Homo sapiens: one gene and its partner. The protein of the gene in region 1 interacts with the protein of each later gene in a pairwise test. Each region holds a gene or a part of one and is shown in the gene's direction. Other genes may lie near its edges.

What was found. Proteins that work in one complex are often made in the same cells at the same time.
Region 2: the proteins of FOXD4L3 (region 1) and CARD10 interact in binary tests that used the Homo sapiens proteins (3 or more experiments, as listed by UniProt).

The regions. Positions count from the first base shown.
Region 1 is NC_000009.12:68,301,569-68,305,584, forward strand, and holds FOXD4L3 (forkhead box protein D4-like 3), read left to right. Parts: upstream 1-1,298; 5' UTR 1,299-1,383; coding exon 1,384-2,637; 3' UTR 2,638-3,516; downstream 3,517-4,016.
Region 2 is NC_000022.11:37,495,416-37,498,915, reverse strand, and holds part of CARD10 (caspase recruitment domain-containing protein 10), read left to right. Parts: intron 1-1,737; coding exon 1,738-1,897; intron 1,898-2,355; coding exon 2,356-2,467; intron 2,468-2,912; coding exon 2,913-3,156; intron 3,157-3,329; coding exon 3,330-3,399; intron 3,400-3,500. UniProt on the Homo sapiens protein: Scaffold protein that plays an important role in mediating the activation of NF-kappa-B via BCL10 or EGFR.

The DNA.
Region 1 (4,016 bases):
GCCCCACTGCACTCCAGCCTGGGCGACAGAGCGACTCCGTCTCAAAAAAAAAAAAAAAAAAAAAAAAAAAAAAAAGAATGAAGAGCCAGAGCCAGGCATAGTGGCACGCCTGTAGTCCCACCTACTCAGGAGGCTGAGGCGGGAGGATCACTTGAGCCCAGGAATTCAAAGCCAGCCTGCGCAACATAGACCCTGTCTCTAAAAATGAATTGGTTATAAAGGATGAAGAAAGGAAGGAGGAAAGGGAGAGAGAGAAGCCCTTATAGAGTGGGTGCATTTCTTGTATGTGGGGCCACTTTGTAAGAACAGGATTTTTCAAACTGGGCCCATACTGGTATGTGTGAAATCAATTTAGTTGGTTATGGCCATTTTTTTTTAAAAGGAAATATCAGTGATCACTATAGTGTAAGTATATTGTTTCGTGAAACCCATCTTAGTTATGTATTATGTCTGTATGTGTGAGATTGTGATATAAAATGTATTTCTGTGGTTAAATATTCAAAGAAATTGGAGAACCATTGCTACAAGGGGACAGAGGACTCCGTGTGAGCTCTCCTGCCTTCCCTGAGTAAACTTACACAATTTAGTGCTGGGACATTTGAGCCTTTTCTGAAAATTTGAGTCAGGGAGAGCATCTTGAGGAGGTGGGAAGGAAGGTAGAAGGAGCAAAGCAACACCCCCCTGAAGCCTGGGAATATTGTCAGAACCTTAAATATAATTCAGCTCACCATTCTGGGTAAGGACAGACTCTACCAATGAAAATGGGTGATTACCAGCTGTGAAACACAAAAACATACTTTTACGGTTACACATTCCTTTACAAACAACCGTGTACATTTCAGCCTCCTGCCCCACCATTTCTTTTCTCCAGGCGGGAAGGCTGCATGTTGAGGTGGTCATAGAATGTTGAGTATCATACTTTCCTACCTCGCTTTTATTTGCGCGGGTTTAAATGCGCCTTAACAGAACCCGTGCAAAGGCTTGCCAACTGTCTGGCTGCACCGGATGAGTAGAGCATCTTCCTTGGTGGCAGGTGGGTGCGAGGAGGAGGGGGCTGGGCTTTTCTCCGGACGGGTGTTTGCCCAGAAGACCATCATCCCTGGACTACGTTAGGAGGAAGTGGCACCGCTCCGAGGTAGGGGAAGAAGGGTTATAAAGGGGGGAGTCCACCACACATGGTCTTGAAGAAGCTTTTATAAAAGGCAAAGGCATCTTTGCCGGACGTTGTTGCAAAGGAGTAGAAACAAGCAGACGAAAACATCCCAAAGGGTAACCACTAGCGTTCCTGCTTCTTGCAACATTCATCCCAGGCTTCCAGCTCAGCCCGCCCCAGGCCAGGTGATCGGCCGCCACATCCCCTGCGACTGAAGCACCTGCTCCTCCATGAACCTGCCAAGAGCTGAGCGCCTTCGCTCCACACCGCAGCGCAGCCTCCGGGACTCCGATGGGGAAGACGGTAAAATCGATGTCCTGGGAGAGGAGGAAGATGAAGACGAGGTGGAAGACGAGGAGGAGGCGGCGAGCCAGCAGTTCCTAGAGCAGTCGCTCCAGCCGGGGCTGCAGGTGGCCCGGTGGGGCGGGGTTGCGCTTCCCCGAGAGCACATCGAGGGCGGCGGCGGCCCGAGCGACCCCTCAGAGTTTGGCACCAAGTTCAGGGCACCGCCAAGGTCTGCGGCGGCCTCTGAAGATGCCCGGCAGCCGGCAAAGCCCCCCTACTCGTACATCGCGCTCATCACCATGGCCATCCTGCAAAACCCGCACAAGCGCCTCACGCTCAGCGGCATCTGCGCCTTCATTAGTGGCCGCTTCCCCTACTACCGCCGCAAGTTCCCCGCCTGGCAGAACAGCATCCGCCACAACCTCTCGCTGAACGACTGCTTCGTTAAGATCCCCCGCGAGCCGGGCCACCCAGGCAAGGGCAACTACTGGAGCCTGGACCCCGCCTCCCAAGACATGTTCGACAATGGCAGCTTTCTCCGGCGTAGGAAGCGTTTCAAGCGCCACCAACTGACCCCGGGAGCCCACCTGCCCCACCCCTTCCCTCTACCTGCTGCACACGCCGCCCTGCACAACCCCCGCCCAGGCCCTCTGCTTGGGGCCCCTGCCCCGCCGCAGCCAGTCCCGGGGGCCTACCCCAACACCGCCCCCGGGAGACGCCCTTACGCTCTGCTGCACCCGCATCCTCTTCGCTACCTACTGCTCTCGGCCCCCGTCTATGCCGGGGCACCGAAGAAAGCAGAAGGCGCGGCCCTGGCGACCCCGGCACCCTTCCCGTGCTGCAGCCCTCACTTGGTCCTCAGCCTTGGGAGGAGGGCAAGGGTCTGGCGTCGCCACCGGGAGGCGGATGCATCTCTTTCAGCATTGAGAGTATTATGCAAGGGGTCAGGGGAGCGGGTACAGGGGCTGCGCAGAATTTGTCCCCGACCGCGTGGAGCTACTGCCACCTGCTCCAGCGACCATCAAGCCTGTTGCATCCCCAGACCGCTGCCCCTTTGCTGCAAGTGTCCGCCGCCGCCGCTGCTCGGACAATTTTGCAGCAATAGCAGCAGCATCAGGAGGAGGACTGCGCCAACGGCTGCGCTCCCACCAAGGGCGCGGTGCTGGGCGGGCACCTGTCGGCCTCGTCGGCCCTGCTGAGGTATCAGGCAGTGGCAGAGGGCTCTAGGCTGACATCGCTGGCTGCCCCTTTGGGCGGAGAGGGGACCTCACCAGTTTTTTTAGTATCGCCCACGCCCAGTTCCCTGGCCAACTCCGCAGGGCCCTCCTAGAGCCAGGTGGGAGTGGGGAGCGACCCGCAGCTGCTCACTCCACCTTGCGCGGCCCATACTGGGCGTGTGCATCTGAATCCCGCTGGAGAGCAAACACGAACTTCTGTTCGCTGCAAAATGGTTAGAAAGAAACAGCTGGATTACGTTCCTCTAAAAACCACCTGAACGTAACCTTCGCAGGGCGTCAAGTCATCTTTTCTTGCCTTCGGTTGTGGCTTCTATGGCTGTCCCGATTTGCGCATTTCCTGGGGTACTATGAACGTGAGTGGGGTATTTTGTTCTGGCATTAAAAGAAAAACAAGCAAGCAAACAAAAACACAGCCTCCGATGCCAAACATGTTCCCCCTTCTTCACTTCCTTGGAGCTGGAAGTATTATTCCTAAGTCTAGTGCAAAATGCTTCTACTCTCTGTGTCTTCCTGATAGGGATGTTTAATGTAAGTAGGATATTAATTTCAGAACATTGATTTCTTATCTGTGTGTCTGACGTGCCATCTTTAATGTTAAAATTAAGGTGTTAAAATTAAGCCTAGTTATATAGACGAAATAAAATGCTAAGTCACTACACTACATCGTTTATTTTCTATTACATCTCATTCTTCCCTTTCTAAATGGAACTTTTTAAAACCTACGTTATTTTCCCTCAAACAATTTATTTTCACAATTCATATTTATTATAGATAGCAGAAGTAATCCATTTTAATATGGCCTTTAAAAATTCCAAATATTTGAGGTTGAAAATGTCCTGGCTTTTAAAATAGGAAATTTACTATTTATGAGACTTCTAAAAGAAAAGAATAGGAGGGCATGTAAATATATTCTCCATTTATTTTTCATCACCCCTCAACAAGCTGGAAAACCATTTGAGATAAATTTGGAATGTAGTGGCCAACATGTACTCAGAGAAAATAAAAGGCTATAAATTATATATATATATATATATATATATTTTAAGCACTAGAATTTTCAAAACTTATTTCTTAAAAAAAAAAACAACTCTGAAAAGACTTTGCAACTAGAAAGGTTTAAGTGTTACTCGGCGTCAGGGGACGGAGTGGGGGGAAACCAGACAAGAACGCCCATCATGAATTGCTCCCCACAAAGAAAACAAATTTCTAGGAACTTGGCCGTTTTCCCCTGTCCTGAGTGGGGTTCCCGATTCCGTGCCGCTTTGAGGGAAGCTGCTCCGTGAATGTGAGAAAGTTTTTCCCCCAGCCCCCATCTACTCCCCACCCCCAGCTATGAATTT
Region 2 (3,500 bases), on another chromosome or scaffold:
CCCCCCCCCCACCCCCCAGCACCCACAGAGGGCAAGGGGTGTCATTGTCAGCTTCGTGTTATGCATGTGGTAACTGACGCTCAGCAGCCGGCTCATTTGCCCAGGCTAGGGTGCAGTTTGCCCTGGGGTTTGGAGCGGACCGTGTGCTCCAGCCACAAAGCCAGGGCCAGCATAGCCAGGCCAGGTCTCAGGCCTGCCCCCTTTCCATGCCACCTCGATGCAGCCAGGACATGCGGCACTGAATGATGCCTCCCATGCCTGCATCTGTCCAGCCCCTCGGCCTGGCTCTGTGTCTTACCTGAGAGGGCGGGGCTGTTCCCCAGCAGTGCCGATTGGGTGGGAGGTCCTTGCAGCCGCGCCCTCCCCAGGCTGGCAGCAGGGGGCAGTGCAGCTGTGTCTGGGCTGCAGCTGCTGGGGTGGATGGAGATGCTTCGCCCCGCTGCCTCTCCAGCCAGCACACCTGCTGACCTTGGTCTCCCCACCTCCTCCAGGCCAAGGTGTCTGGCAGGGGACTTGGGGTCCATTTGTCTCTGAGCCTGGCCACAAGGCCTCACCTTTTCTCATCCAGGGACAGGCAGAACCCTACCATGATGGGGATTTTGGTGACGTCTTAATTGTCAGTGGTCCTCCTGCCCATGGGAGGAAAACCAGACGCCTCTGTTCCACGCCCTCCAAAGGGTGGCTCCAGCTTGCCTTTCCTGGGAGCTGCTTCCCAGGATGTAAAATAAGAATTAGGGCAAGGAGCTCAGCATGGTGTCTGGCACATGGAAAGCACCCAGGAAGTGTTCGCTGCTATTGTTATTATTAAATTCTTCCACGCATCCTGTGTTCTGTCCTCCACACCTTTGCTCTGATATATTCCTTCAGCCTGGAACTCTGTTTCCTCCATCTGTCACCAAAGTGCATCTATTCTTCACCAGCGTGTAGCCTAGGTACTTCTTCCGTGGGAAGCCTCTCTCTGCTTCCACGGCTGGTTGTAACCACCTTTGGATCTGTGCCACGTGCTAATGGTGACCTCCCTCCTCAGACTGTGAGCATAACAAGCTTTTTTTTTTTTTTTTGAGACAGAGTTTCAGTCTTGTTGCCCAGGCTGGAGTGCAGTGGCTCGATCTCGGCTCACTGCAACCTCTGCCTCCTGGGTTCAAGCAATTCTCCTCCCAAGTAGCTGGAATTACAGGCGCCCACCACCACGCCCGGCTAATTTTTTTGTATTTTTAGTAGAGATGGGGTTTCACTATGTTGGCCAGGCTGGTCTCGAACTCCTGACCTCATGATCCGCCTGCCTCGGCCTCCCAAAGTGCTGGGATTACAGGCGTGAGCCACCGTGCTTGGCTATATAACAAGCTTTTATTAGTCATCTGCTATGTGCCAGACACTGGGTTTGGTGCCAGGGCTACAGAGCGGAACAGTATAGAAGTTTGGTCCTGAAGGTGTTCGTTCTGATGGAGGAAACGAAAGGGCCGTGGCAAGGCAAAGTTGGAGTGCTCTGTGGCACGCAGGCTCCACTGCACCGTGTGCCCAGGTCCAGGGGAGAGGCTGCTTGTGACTTGAGATTTGAAGGATGATCAGCATTTCCCAGGTGGAGAAGGCAAGGAAGAGGGCACAGAAGATGGAGAGGCCTGGGGGTGGGAGTCATGGCATACTTGGGAAATGAAATCACTGTGGTTTTCCAAGAATGCTGAACTGAATCCAAGTACTGATTGGACTCCAATTCTCATCTCCTTTCTCCCTTCTCAGGTCTCTGGCTATTCGGGTGTCTGGCCGGAGCCCCCCAGGGGGCCCAGAGCCGCAGGACAAGGGACCAGATGGACTGTCGTTTTATGGGGACAGATGGTCTGGGGCTGTGGTGCGCAGGGTGCTGTCTGGGCCTGGGTCCGCCAGGATGGAACCAAGAGAGGTGAGGCCCTGCCTCCTGAGCTGGGGGGGTAGGGTCAGTGCTTTTGCCCAGGCTGGACATCCCTTAATTTGGTGGATCAAGATCACCGGGCAGAGCTTCTGGGGATTGGTCAAAGCCGAAGCGGGCTCAGTGATTAGCTGTGGTTGCCTGCTCAGCCAGGCTTAATTGAAGTCTGATTGGGCAGGGACTGGGAGGTGGAGCCAACTGACAGCACGTTACATTCCTGCGCTTCAAGTCGAGAAAGACCTGGATGAGCTGGGCGGGTTGGGGAGTCCTGTGGATGGGGGCGTCCTGTGGATGGGGACGGGTCTGACTGGGCTGGGCATGGCAGTTTCTGAGGGGGCGCTATCTGAACTGTGAGGCATGAAACACCCCCACACCTGGTCTTCCTCCAGCCCCTGGGCTGCTCTACTCTCAGAGGCTCACTTCTTTCCCTCCCTGCCTGGGTTTTCTCCCAGCAAAGGGTGGAAGCTGCTGGTCTGGAGGGGGCGTGCCTGGAAGCCGAGGCCCAGCAGAGAACCTTGCTCTGGAATCAGGGGTCCACACTCCCCTCCCTGATGGACTCGAAGGGTAAGTCTGGCTTGGGAGTCGGAGCTGTTGGCCCCAGAGGGGTCCTCTAACCCGTGGTGCATGGGGTGGGGAGGGACCAAGGACCTGAGAAGGGACCAGCCTTGCCCCAATTGCCCTTCTCCTGGCTCCCCGCCTGCTGATGCCTCCTTCTGTCTGTCCTTGTGCCCTTTCTCTATGCCTCCCTCTGTAAGCAGCTTACAGTGAAAGGAGCACTACATTAGGAGTCCAGAGACCTGGGTTTGAGTCCTGGCTCTGTTTCTAGAAGGCACTGGCCTTGGGCAAGTCCCTGCCCCCTCTGGACCTAAGTCATTCTAAGAAGGTGAAGGTCGGGTCCTGGGAACTCAGGCCTCGAGAGGGCCATGTCTTTGGCCCCACCAAGGCCGATCCTGGACCTCACCATCCTCCTCTTGTCCTCCTTGCTGCCCCCTGCCCCATCCATGCCCAGCCTGCCAGTCCTTCCACGAGGCCCTAGAAGCCTGGGCAAAGGGACCAGGTGCCGAGCCCTTCTACATTCGTGCCAACCTCACCTTGCCTGAGAGGGCAGATCCCCATGCCCTTTGCGTGAAAGCCCAAGAGATCCTTCGACTGGTGGACTCGGCATACAAGCGGAGGCAGGAATGGTTCTGCACCCGGGTTGACCCCCTCACTCTGCGGGACCTGGACCGGGGCACCGTGCCCAATTATCAGAGGTGACGCAGAGCCAGGAGCTGGGGATGGGGTCCCCCTGGGAGCCAGGGCTCAGATGGGGGTGCTCTCCCTCCACCTGCATTCCCTCACCATCCTCTGGGACAGGGCGGGGGGTTCGAGGAGAAATGAGGAGCTTTCCTTCTTTCTACACACATGATGTCACTCCCTCCCACAGAGCCCAGCAGCTCCTAGAAGTTCAGGAGAAATGCCTGCCCTCCAGCCGGCACCGAGGCCCCCGCAGTAATGTGAGCACGGCTGGGCAGGTAGTGGGTGGGGGGCCCCAAGGGTGGGGTCCAAAAGGGAGCTAGCAGGCTCTGTTCTCTGGCAACCTAGGAAGACACTCCCT